Regions from separate parts of the Homo sapiens genome. Here region 1 is linked to region 2. The links come from fine-mapping of genetic effects on gene expression. Tissue or cell type: sun-exposed skin. Region 2 holds a variant in brackets; the other region holds the start of a gene. All regions are shown on one strand. Distances are between the middles of the regions.

Region 1 (2,688 bases), 120 kb after region 2:
TTCCTTTTTTACTTTCTTTCTTTCTTTGTCTTGTCTACTGGGAAGCTCCATTCCTTTTGTTGTTGTTGTTGTTTGTTTGTTTTTTGTTTTTGAGATGGAGTCTCACTGTGTTGCCCAGGCTGGAGTGCAGTGGTGTGATCTTGGCTCACTGCAACCTCTGCCTCCCGGGTTCAAGCGATTCTCCTGCCTCAGCCTCCAGAGTAGCTGGGATCACAGGCGTGCTACCAAGCCCGGCTAATTTTTGGTGTTTTTAGTAGAGACGGGGTTTCACCATGTTGGCCAGGCTGGTCTTGAACTCCTGACCTCAGGTGATCCGCCTACCTTGGCGTCCCAAAGTGCTGAGATTACAGGCGCACGCCACCGTACCCAGCCCAATATATGTGTATTTTTAACGTTACTATATAATGCTAGATTGCTTCAGACTGGTCTTTACAGATCGGATCCTTCTTATGGTTTCCCATATGTCCAGAATGAAATATGAGCTCCCTGGCCAAGGAGGCCCTACAGCACCTGGCCCCAGCCTACACCCCCTACACTCCCAACACACTGACACTGTCTACTCATCCAGAAAAAGCAACCTGTTAGCCACCACTTAATATACCCCTTCACCCCCGGTGTGTGTGTCCCACATCGCCGTTTATTTTTCAGCTTGTTTGTCTGCATACCGACCCACCGTCCTTCAAACGCTACAACGTAAACTCCCAGTCCTGGCCACTGGATGAAGCCAGTGGCTTTTCCCTACCTCCTACTCTTTGTGCACGCAGAGCAATTTAGCCACGCATCCCGCCTTCCCGTTATTTTACACCTGCAACCCTGTTGCTGCCCTCCAAGTTCAAAGTGCGAAATTGCCGCCTGCTAGAATCTTTTCCTTAGTTGGGCACTTCCCCTCCCCGCCCTGCCGTAAGAAAATTGGTGTCTGAAGTCTTAGGAGTGCCTGCCTCTGCATAACTAAGTAAACAACCGCTTTGCGACGCAGCCCCAGCAGCAAAAGGACACGGTGGGCACGGCCATCTGGCCTGGAGCAGTGACGTCACCGGCAAGGCTACCTTCCCTCTGCGCCTGCGCTGCGGCCCCATGTTGACTATTGGCGGACGGGGTCTCAAAGGCGCCACTGAGCGTGCGCAGAACCGACCCCTGCAGCCCTTTAGGCTGCGGTGCCAAAGAGTCGGTCCCGAAGCGGAAGTGCTTGTTGGGGCCAGGCTTTGTAACGGTCTCCTGAGCAGCGAGCAGAAAATCTGTTATCGAGAGAGAGTGAGGTTGAGGGGGCAAGTGCTAGGGGTCGTGGGCTGAGTGATGGGGAGTTCTGTGGGATGAGTGAAGTGGGAGTTGGGGGTTGAGTGATGGGGGACCGAGAGGTCAGTGGACGAGGTTCTAGGGGCTCACTGGTGAACAAAGTTATGGGGGCTAAGCAGGATTAAATGGGGCTTATTAAACTTTGACTTTTACACGTTTTCCAGCACAGTGACCTGCCCCTAAAGGTTCATGCGCATCCCTCAGACCCCTCTTTAGACGCGCCCCGCTTCTCCCTCTGCCCTCTCCCCTTGCCCAAGCCCCGAGGTGGGGGCCTGGTGTGAATGCTCCGGCCGAAGTGAACCTGCACCCCCGCACCCGAAGGCCTCTTTCCGGCTTCTGGGCAAGGCGGCCCCGGTGAGGTGAGCAGAAGGAAGGAGAGGCACCTGCGAGGTCTCACCTGACCCCGGGCCTCGCCCAAGTTGGGGGCGTGGGAGGAGGGGTAGGTGCGGGGTCTGAGGGAGATGGGGGTAAAATGTAATTGGGATAATAGTTTTAGAGTGTAGTTTTTTTTGGCATTTAATAAATAACATTTGAATATATAGATTAATTCTGAAATAGAGAAAAAGAAAATCAACAGGAACTAATTCTTCCCCCACACATTTAAATGTCCGTTTTTAGACATTTTTGGTGTGTATAGGGGTATGCCTTTTAAACATTTAACATATAACTTTAAAATGGATTCCCGCAGTTTTAAAACCTACTTTGTAATTCACCTTAGGATTTTTTTGTACACCTTTTAAAAACGTTTAGTTGAGATACATATACCACAAAGTGCATAGATACTGTACAGTTCCATATAACGCTTTTAACAGCTTTGTAGCATTTTATCTTTTATATTTTGTTATTATTAATCCCTTATGGGTCATAGAGGATCGTTTAAGTTTGGCATTATTGAAATCAATGCTGAGACGTGGGTACGTGCAGAGAAATTATGATACATTATGATAAATTATTTCCTTAAGGAAAATACCTACAAATACACTTTATGGGTCAGTACACAATTTAATATATGTGTATATAAAACCTTTTGTGTTCAATGTTCACATGAAGAGTGAATAATACACAGATTGTTAAAATCACATGGTTGCCCAGACTCTTCCAGAGAGCAGTCTGATGGCCAGCTGATGTGAGGGGATTGCTAGGCAGCTAATTCTGGGCACTGAAAGTCTGATGGGGTCTCCTCATCTGCTGTACTCTTCTCCACTTGTTCCAGCTCGGCCGTCACACATCTCTGCTTTTTCCCAAGAAGAGCAGGAAATGGCCAAACCCCAGGTAAGTATGTTGTCTGTTTCTTCATTCCTCTATTTTACTGTGGATGTGACGAAATATGTGGAAATCCCTGCCATAAAATAGGAAAGTATTTGTAAATAAGGATTGGATCAGGCAAAATAAGAG
Region 2 (2,688 bases):
AATCGGATGAGGGGAGTACATGCTGAACAGGAAACAGAGTGAGGGGGGCTTGACCAGGACACATGGCAGTGGAGAAAAGCAGATGGGAGATGCTTATACTGGTACTTGGTGTGTGTGTGTGCGTGTGTGGTGTGTGTGTAAATGCAGAGGAAAAAATCGGAAATTAAACACTCAGACCTCCCCTCAGTAGTCACATCTGGGGAGAGAGGAGGGTAGTGCTGTTCTATGGAGAGAATACCTGACAATACTTGTTTTCTGAGGTAGGTGCATGGATACACAAGCCGAAATATGCATTAAGCATGTCTTGCTCATCAACGAAAATGCTAATGTCTAACAGAATGGCACACTGCAAGAAAATACAACGGAAACGCCAACATCGAACTCTTGGCACACTAAGAAAAATGACGCTCAACTTTTCACTGTTGTGAACACTTGCTTTCACTTGCTATACACCTGATGACGAGGGGTCCGCAGCCATGCCCACGTTCGTGAAAGGTCACCACGTTCTGCTTCTCATCATGGGCATGTGTCGTATCCCTGAGGCTGAGGCAAGAAGAGAGAAGGAAATAAGTGGCAGTGAGTTCCCACCACGTGGCAACTCAATCTCAACTCCTCCTGACCTGCAGACCCTGCACACTCTGATTCTGCCCTACCTCAGGACCTGCACACGCCTTCCACGGTTCCTCGAAGTGAACCATCTGTTCATGCCACAGTGACTTCCTCGCCTGAGTTATCAATTTCTAGGCTAGAGAAAGGTGTGGCCCGCATATCAGTGCTGACCTGGGGTTTGGGAGCCCACAGCATCCAGGGTAGGGAGGATCCCTGGATATACAGGGCAGGGAGTAGGAAGAGCATGGGAAATCTCATCGTTCAGCCTCAATGCTGTACAGTAGAAAATTATGAGAAGGGAATGATTTGGGGAACAAGTGACAGATGGGATACCAGTACCATAACAGAATAGCACATCTGCAGGGATGTGGAGGGTGAGCCGAAGGTTCACTTATGGAGTTACTTGTCATCTTCCTCAGGGTCGCTGATCTCTTCATAAATCACCAGCTGCTTTCTCTCACGCAGTCTGTGGGTCCAGGCATGTTTCCCCCTTTTGGGTCCTATGATGGAGAAGAGTTGGGAGATGAGGGTTGGGTAGGTTGGAGAGTGTTACGCTCTGTTTTCTCAAAAGCAGGAGATGCCTCCCC[C/G]CTCCCAAGTGCCCATGGGCCTTCTTTATCCAGTTTTTCACATTCTCTGGCTTAGAGAGGCTGAGACCTTAAACCCACACCAATACACGACAAATACCAATTAAAGTTTTTAGCTTCTGGCTCCTTCTGTTGTGACGTTTAGATTACCAACCTCTTCACTTACGGGAACATTCACCCTTACCTCCTTTCATTCTGCAAGTATTTGTTAAGGGCACACAGGCATACCTCGTTTTATTGCACCTCATTTTCGTAGTGCTTCGCAGATACTGCATTTTTTTTTAGAAATTCTCACCAATTTTACACTTTTCCATTATTATTATATCTGTTATGGTGATTTGTGATCAGTGAGCTTTGATGTTATTATTGCAATTGTTTTTGTTGTTTTTTAGTCTTTTAAAATAATTTTTGTTCTTTATTTTGTGGGTACGCAGTAGGTGTATATTCTTATGGGGTACATGAGATGCTTTGATACAGTCATGCAAATGCGTAGTAATCACATCGTGGAAAATAGGGTATCCATCCCCTCAAACATTTATCCTTGTGTTACAAACAATCCATTTACACTCTTTTAGTTATTTTTAAATGTATGATTAAGTTATTATTGACTATAGTCACCCTGTTCTGTGTAAATGTTTTGGGGGTACTAAGAACTGCGCCCACAGAAGATGACGAACGTAATCAATTAATGTTGTGTGTGTTCTGACTGCTCCACCGATGAGCTCTTCCCTGCCTCTCTTCCTTTTCTTGGGCCTCCCTATTATTTCCTGAGACACAGCAATACTGAAATTAGGACAATGAACAACCCTACAATGGCCGCTAAGTGTTCAAATGAAAGGAAGAGTCGCATGTCTCTCACTTTAAATCAGAAGCTAGAAATGGCTAGGCTTAGTGAGGAGGCATGCTGAAAGCCAAGACAGGCTGAAAGCTAGGCCTCTTGCACCAGCCAAGCTGTGAATGCAAAGGAAAAGTTCTTGAAGGAAATAATAGTATATACTGCAAAGGAAAAGTTCTTGAAGAAAATAATAATACTAATACTCCAGTGAACACACGAATAAGAAAGCAAAACTGCCTTACTGCTGAAATGAGAAAGTGGTCAGGATAGAAGACGAAACCAGCCACAACATTCCCTTAAGCCAAAGTCTAATTCAGAGCAAGACCCAAACTCTCTTCCAGTCCAGGAAAGCTGAGAGAGGTGAAGAAGCTGCAGAGGAAACGTGTGAAACTAGCAGAGGTTGGTTTGTGAGGTTTAAGGAAAGAAGCTGTCCCCATAACATAAAAGTGCAAGGTGTAGCAGCAAACACTGATGGAGAAGCTGCAGCAAGTTATCCAGAAGATCTAGCTAAAATCACTGATGAAGGTGGCTACACTAAACAACAGATTTTCAATATAGATTAAACAGCCTTCTATTGGAAGCAGATGCCATCTAAAACTTTCATAGCTAGAGAGGACTGACTCCAACTTTGAAAGAAGTTCTACTGTGGGTAAAATGCTA

What was found. PIP is the estimated chance that this variant, and not a neighbour inherited with it, causes the effect.
Region 1: ZNF182 starts here. The variant in region 2 is fine-mapped to the expression of ZNF182 in sun-exposed skin (GTEx, PIP above 0.99). The same link has a PIP of 0.9 or more in tibial nerve and transverse colon.

Annotation. Positions count from the first base shown.
Region 1 is chrX:48,002,472-48,005,159 of GRCh38, reverse strand. ZNF182 (zinc finger protein 182) reads left to right here and starts at 1,171. Exons shown (of 6, transcript NM_001007088.2): 1 at 1,171-1,251; 2 at 1,458-1,652; 3 at 2,507-2,565. The coding sequence starts at 2,551. It also overlaps a transcript of SPACA5 not described here. RefSeq lists an enhancer at 1,246-1,555.
Region 2 is chrX:48,117,955-48,120,642 of GRCh38, reverse strand. It overlaps the pseudogene SSX6P. Among named protein-coding and RNA genes, the nearest start is that of SPACA5B, 11 kb to the left of the region's middle. The variant C/G (reference allele first, on the strand shown) is at 1,197.